Linked DNA regions of Homo sapiens. The protein of the gene in region 1 interacts with the protein of each later gene in a biochemical or structural test. Each region holds a gene or a part of one and is shown in the gene's direction. Other genes may lie near its edges.

Evidence for each region. The genes of interacting proteins can lie anywhere in the genome.
Region 2: the proteins of SPTBN4 (region 1) and ARC form a complex in vitro, tested with the Homo sapiens proteins (one study listed by BioGRID).

The regions. Positions count from the first base shown.
Region 1 is NC_000019.10:40,469,901-40,473,644, forward strand, and holds part of SPTBN4 (spectrin beta chain, non-erythrocytic 4), read left to right. Parts: intron 1-2,706; 5' UTR 2,707-2,721; coding exon 2,722-2,890; intron 2,891-3,744.
Region 2 is NC_000008.11:142,612,849-142,616,592, reverse strand, and holds the start of ARC (activity-regulated cytoskeleton-associated protein), read left to right. Parts: upstream 1-2,113; 5' UTR 2,114-2,321; coding exon 2,322-3,512; 3' UTR 3,513-3,744.

The DNA.
Region 1 (3,744 bases):
CCCAAAGTGCTGGGATTACAGGTGTGAGCCACTGTGCCCGGCCAATTTCTTCTTTTTTTAAATAATTTTTTGTTTTCTATTTTTTTATTTTCATTTAATTTAATTTTATTTTTTCTGAGATGGGGTCTCACTCTGTCGCCCAGGCTGGAGTGCAGTGGCACGATCTCAGCTCACTGCAACCTCTGTCTCCCAGGTTCAAGCGATTCTACTGTCTCAGTCTCCTGAGTAGCTGGGATTATAGGTGCACAATGCCATGCCTGGCTAATTTCTTGTATTTTAGTAGAGATGGAGTTTCACCAAGTTGCCCAGACTGGTCTCGAACCCCTGAGCTCAGGCAATCCACCCGCCTTGGCCTCCCTAAGTGCCAGGATAACAGGCATGAGCCACCGTGCCCGGCCTATTTTTATTTTTTTATTTTTGTTTGAGATGGTGTCTCGCCCTGTTGCCCAAGCCGGAGTGCAGTGGTGCCATCTTGGCTCACTGCAACCTCTGCCTTCCCAGGTTCAAGCGATTCTCCTGCCTCAGCCTCCTGAGTAGCTGGGATTGCAGGCATGCACTACCATGCCCAGCTCATTTTTGTATTTTTAGTAGAGATGGGGTTTCACCATGTTGGCCGGGCTGGTCTTGAACTCCTGACCTCAAGCGATCTGCCTGCCTTGGCCTCCCAAAGTGCTGGGATTACAGGTATGAGCCACTGTGCCTGCCCCCTCCACTTTAAATTTTTCTTCTTCTTCTTCTTCTTTTTTTCTTGAGAATGAGTCTTACTCTGTCGCCCAGGATAGAGTGCAGTGGCACAATCTCAGCTCATTGCAACCTGCGCCTCCTGGGTTCAAACGATTCTCCTCCCTCAGCCTCCTGAGTAGCTGAGATTACAGTAGCCCGAAACCACACCCAGCTAATTTTTGTATTTTCAGTAGAGACCGGGTTTCACCATGTTGGCCAGGCTGGTCTCGAACTCCTCACCTCGTGATCCGCCTGCCTCGGCCTCCCAAAGTGCTGGGATTACAGGCAGGACCCACTGTGCCCAGCCCCATTAATGCAAATATTCTATCACCTTTTTTTTTTTTGAGACGGAGTCTTGCTCTGTCTCCCAGGCTGGAGTGCATTGGCATGATCTCGGCTCACTGCAGCCTCCACCTCCCAGGTTCAAGTGATTCTCCTGCCTCAGCCTCCTGAATACCTGGGATTACAAGTGTGTGACACCACGCCCAGCTAATTTTTGTATTTTTAGAGACAGGGTTTCACCATGTTGGCCAGGCCGGTCTTGAACTCCTGACCTCAGGTGATCTACCCATCTCAGCCCCAAAAAGTGCTGGGATTACATGCATGAGCCACCGCGCCTGGCCCTATCATCTATGTTTGAATCCTAGATACTAACTGGCTGTGTAACCTTGGAAAAATAGATCAACTCCTCTGTGCCTCAGTTTCCTCCTCTGTAAAATAGGTGTAATAATAGCCAACTGTTAGGGAATTAAATTTGTGGAAATAATAAGAGAAGGTACATGAAGTACTGACCACAGTGCAAGTGTTCAATATGTTCATTATTGTTATTACTGCATTACAGAACTCTATTGTTCTAATAATAACAGTGACAATTTGCTGAGCCCTTAATATGTGCCAGGGGCTAAGCCATGTGTTTTATCACATCCTGTGAAGTGGTGAGGGTGAACATTATTATTATTATTATTTAGAAATAGGGTATCGCCATATTGCCCAGTTTGGAGTGCAGTGTCACTATTATAGATCACTGTAGCCTTGGCTTCTTGGGCTCAAGCCATCTTCCTGCCTCAGCCTCCTAAATAGCTGGGACTACGGGTGGCAACCACCACATTTGGCTAATTTTTAAATTTTTTTAAAAGACAGTTTCTGGCTCTGCTGCCCAGGCTGGAGTGCAGTGGCGCTATCTTGGCTCACTGCAACCTCCACTTCACAGGCTCAAGCCATCCTCACACCTCAGCCTCCTGAGTAGCTGGGATTACAGGCACGTTGCCACCACATCCAGCTATTTTTTTTTTTTTTTTTTTTTTGAGACAGAGTTTCGCTTTTGTTGCCCAGGCTGGAGTGCAATGGCATGATCTTGGCTCACCACAACCTCCGCCTCCCGGGTTCAAGCGCTTCTCCTGCCTCAGCCTCCCGAGTAGCTGGGATTACAGGCATACTCCACCTCGCCTGGAGAATTTTGTATTTTTATTAGAGACAGCGTTCTCCATGTTGGTCAGGCTGATCTCGAACTCCCAACCTCAGGTGATCCGCCCGCCTCTGCCTCCCAAAGTGCTGGGATTATAGGTGTGAGCCACCGTGCCTGGCCAATTTTTGTATTTTTTTGTAGAGACAGGGTTTCACCATGTTGCCCAGGCTTGTCTCGAACTCCTGGGCTCAAGCAATCCGCCCTCCTCAGCCTCTCAAAGTGTTGGGATTATAGGCCTGAGCCACTGCGCCTGGCTTATTTTTATTTTTATAGAGATGAAATCTTGCTATGTTGCCCAGGCTGGTCTCCAACCCCTGGGCTCAAGCGATTCTCCTGCCTCTGCCTCCCAAAGTGCTGGGATTACAGGCATGAGCCACTGTGCCTAGGCCTTATCATTGTTATTATGTCCACTTTAAAGACAGAGAAATTGAGGACAAGAGAGGGGACAGGACTCAAAGCCAGTCACTGTTAGAAATGAGACTTGATCCTAGACCTAACCTACCTCTCCCTATGTCCAGGCCTCACCTTCCCCGATGGCGCAGGTACCAGGGGAAGTGGACAACATGGAGGGCCTGCCTGCTCCTAACAACAACCCTGCTGCCCGCTGGGAGAGTCCGGATCGGGGCTGGGAGCGGGAGCAGCCGGCTGCGTCCACCGCAGCGGCCTCGCTCTTTGAGTGCTCCCGGATCAAGGCCTTGGCAGGTACCTGGAGGAGGGCTGGGGTGGGATGAGGAGGAGGGGGAAGGGGGAAGGGTGCCCGAGAACCTTGGTGGCTGGGAGGGTGGGAAAAGAGACCAGCACTGTCCAATAGAACTTTCCATGATGGTGGAAATAGTCTATATCCATAATGTACCATATAATAATCACTAGTCTCTGTGACTTTTGAATGCTAGAAATGTGGCCAGTGCTATGTGACAGCCTTTGAGTTTTAAATTTTATTTAGTTTTAATTAAATTTATTTATATATATATTTTTTGAGACAGAGTCTTATTCTGTTGCCCCGGCTGGGGTGTAGTGGTGAGATCTTGGGTCACTGCAATCTCCACCTCACCGGCTCAAGCCATCCTCCTACCTCAGCCCCCTGACTAGCTGGGACTACAGGTGCCCGCCACCACACCCGGCTAATTCTTTTTGTATTTTTAGTAGACACCGGGTTTCACTGTGTTTGCCAGGCTGGTTTTGAACTTCTGATCTTAAGTGATCCACTTGCTTTGGCTTCCCAAAGTGCTGGGATTACAGGCATGAGCCACTGCACCTGGCCTGGTGTTTTTTTTTTTTTTTTTTTTGAGACGGAGTTTCGCTCTTGTTGCCCAGGCTGGAGTGCAGTGGCGCGATCTCGGCTCACCGCAACCTCCACCTCCCAGGTTCAAGCGATTCTCCTGCCTCAGCCTCCCTAGTAGCTGGGATTACAGGCATGTGCCACCACGCCCAGCTAATTTTGTATTTTTACTAGAGACGGGGTTTCTCCATGTTGGTCAGGCTGGTCTCGAACTCCCAACCTCAGGTGATCCACATGTCTCGGCCTCCCAAAGTGCTGAGATTACAGGCATGAGCCA
Region 2 (3,744 bases), on another chromosome or scaffold:
AGCTGTGCCCTGGCGGGGACGTCAGAGGCCACACGGGCTTGTAAACCCTGGCGGGGCTGGCCCCTGGTCATTGAAGTGCTGGCTCTCACAATGGACACACATGCACGGTCAGTGCCCAGCACCCAGACAACACCTACAGGCTCAGGCTGGCCCCAACCCGGACATGTGGCCCTCGGTGACCGCTGGCTGCACTCACCCAAGGCTGCTGGCGTCTGCCCGTCCCGCATGTGCCCACCCAGCTCCTCTCCCTGGGATTCCGCAGTGGAGAAGCGGGAAGGTCCCTGTGCTGGAGACTTCTCTGCCTGGCTCCCCCTCCCAGCTCCGCGGTGCCCCTCCGCCCTCCCTTCTCTGTCCGCCCACTTACCTTTAATTAGAAATGCCAGGAGAGCCATTTTTGGGGAGTTTTTTTGCCAGAAAGACATTCCCCCCCAGGGGCGGAAGGAAGGAGGAGACAGACTGGCTCTGAGGCTGGGAGAGGGCTCCCCGGGAGAGCCGGTTGGGGGGGGGCTCAGAGGGTTGGCAGGGAGGGGGGATTCCAGCAAGTGGGCACCTGTGTGCCCTTGAGTGCCTGAATAAGACAGGGGATGCTGGGGGGAGCTGAGGGCTGTGAGTGGGGGGTATGAGTGTGTATGTGGGAGCTATGAGTGGGGGGTATGAGTGTGTATGTGGGAGCTATGAGTGGGGGGTATGAGTGTGTGTGGGGGCTGTGAGTGAGGGCATGAGTGTGTGGGGTGGGGTTAGAGTGGGGGCTATGAGTGTGTATGTGGGGGTGTGAGTGTGCAGCATGTGTGTGTCTGAGAGAGGGAAAGGGCAGCTGGCAGCAGGAACAAGATGTCTTGATTGTCAGCGATGATGTCCTCATGGCCCTCTGGCTGTGGGGAATGGTGTGTGTCACCCCTGCCTGGGTAACATCAGAGGACCTGAGACCCATGCCTATCCAGCCAGCACTGGAGTAACTCAGGAAGGGCGTCCCTACCCCCGCCAGGTTGCCAGGGAGGCAGAAGGGACCTCCCTCCCGAGGGAGTCTCGGCTTCCGGAGCCCCGCTCCTTATATGGTGCTTGGCTTCCCTCTGCCTCTCCTGATGGCACTGTGCTGCCAGCACCGGCCCCCCTCCCTCTCCCTCCTCGCCTCTCCTCCCTCCCCTTCTCCTTTCCCTCCTTCCACCTCCCTCCCTGTCTCCCTCTCTCCTCCCCTCTTCCATCCCCTTAGAAGTCTTGGAGCCTCTGGCCAGGTTCTTGATATAGCCAGGGTCTTCAGGGCCCAATTCCCTTCACTGGGGGCTAAATGTCCCCTCCATGTCCTCCAAACCCCAGCCCCCCAGGTAGCAGCTGCCAGATTTCCCTGGAAACACAGAAAAGTATTGGGCCTCACCAGAGACCTGCGTATGGGGGCATGGGGCAGCCCTGTCCAGTCACTGCCACGTGGGCCCCTGTCACCCATGCACACCAACGCCAGGGCCAGGCAGAGCGAGCCTCTGCCTGGCTGTGCGTCCCTCACACAGAGCCCAAGACCTGGACTCAGGACCCGGGCAGGAGTGAGTGGGAGCTCAAAGCCACATCTGGGAGCTCACATGGAGACTTGCTGAGCCCCTGGGCACAGAGGCTGATGGTGAGGGTCCTTCCCGGGCTCAGCTGCACATCCTGCAGAGCTGGGTGGGCGGGGTCAGGGGCAGTGAGGACCCAGGAGAGCAGTGGCCAGCGCCAGCCCCCTCCAGCCCCGCAAAGAGAGAGGCGAGTGGAGAGGAGGAAGGCCACCTTGGGACCCTGGGAGGCAGCAGATGACAGCCCGCCCAGCGCCCGGGAGGGGGCGTGGGAGGGGCGCCCAGTGCCCGGCTCAGTCCCTCGGTCCCCGCAGGCTGAATGAGCCCCGCCGTCCGGGGTGGGAGGTACGGAGCGGAGGGATTAGTCATCCTGGCCCCGCCATGTGTGCAGGGGGTGGGACCTCCCGTCCCTTGCCGCCCGGGAGCCGAGTGGGCGCAGGGCGGGGCCTGCAGGGGCGCGGGCGGGGCGCTGGCGGGGAGCCTGCGGCTGGGCCAATGAGAAACCGGGCTCGGCGAGCCGGCCGCCCACGGGCCTCGCTGGCTGCATAAAGAGCCGGCGGCCAGGACTCAGCGCAGAGCTCGGGCGCGGCGTCCTCCCTCCGCAGCAGCCGAGCCGGACCTGCCTCCCCGGGCGTGCTCCGCCGGCCCCGCCGCCGGCCCGCAGCGACAGACAGGCGCTCCCCGCAGCTCCGCACGGGACCCAGGCCGCCGGACCCCAGCGCCGGACCACCCTCTGTCCGCCCCGAGGAGTTTGCCGCCTGCCGGAGCACCTGCGCACAGATGGAGCTGGACCACCGGACCAGCGGCGGGCTCCACGCCTACCCCGGGCCGCGGGGCGGGCAGGTGGCCAAGCCCAACGTGATCCTGCAGATCGGGAAGTGCCGGGCCGAGATGCTGGAGCACGTGCGGCGGACGCACCGGCACCTGCTGGCCGAGGTGTCCAAGCAGGTGGAGCGCGAGCTGAAGGGGCTGCACCGGTCGGTCGGGAAGCTGGAGAGCAACCTGGACGGCTACGTGCCCACGAGCGACTCGCAGCGCTGGAAGAAGTCCATCAAGGCCTGCCTGTGCCGCTGCCAGGAGACCATCGCCAACCTGGAGCGCTGGGTCAAGCGCGAGATGCACGTGTGGCGCGAGGTGTTCTACCGCCTGGAGCGCTGGGCCGACCGCCTGGAGTCCACGGGCGGCAAGTACCCGGTGGGCAGCGAGTCAGCCCGCCACACCGTTTCCGTGGGCGTGGGGGGTCCCGAGAGCTACTGCCACGAGGCAGACGGCTACGACTACACCGTCAGCCCCTACGCCATCACCCCGCCCCCAGCCGCTGGCGAGCTGCCCGGGCAGGAGCCCGCCGAGGCCCAGCAGTACCAGCCGTGGGTCCCCGGCGAGGACGGGCAGCCCAGCCCCGGCGTGGACACGCAGATCTTCGAGGACCCTCGAGAGTTCCTGAGCCACCTAGAGGAGTACTTGCGGCAGGTGGGCGGCTCTGAGGAGTACTGGCTGTCCCAGATCCAGAATCACATGAACGGGCCGGCCAAGAAGTGGTGGGAGTTCAAGCAGGGCTCCGTGAAGAACTGGGTGGAGTTCAAGAAGGAGTTCCTGCAGTACAGCGAGGGCACGCTGTCCCGAGAGGCCATCCAGCGCGAGCTGGACCTGCCGCAGAAGCAGGGCGAGCCGCTGGACCAGTTCCTGTGGCGCAAGCGGGACCTGTACCAGACGCTCTACGTGGACGCGGACGAGGAGGAGATCATCCAGTACGTGGTGGGCACCCTGCAGCCCAAGCTCAAGCGTTTCCTGCGCCACCCCCTGCCCAAGACCCTGGAGCAGCTCATCCAGAGGGGCATGGAGGTGCAGGATGACCTGGAGCAGGCGGCCGAGCCGGCCGGCCCCCACCTCCCGGTGGAGGATGAGGCGGAGACCCTCACGCCCGCCCCCAACAGCGAGTCCGTGGCCAGTGACCGGACCCAGCCCGAGTAGAGGGCATCCCGGAGCCCCCAGCCTGCCCACTACATCCAGCCTGTGGCTTTGCCCACCAGGACTTTTGAGCTGGGGCTGACTCCTGCAGGGGAAGCCCTGGTCCAGCTGGGTGCCCCCTCGAGCTCCGGGCGGACTCGCACACACTCGTGTCATCCAGATGTGAGCACCGCACCCAGCGGCAAAGAGCCCTCCCCCCTGCAGGGCTCCACCCATCACCCTCCCTCCGTCTGTC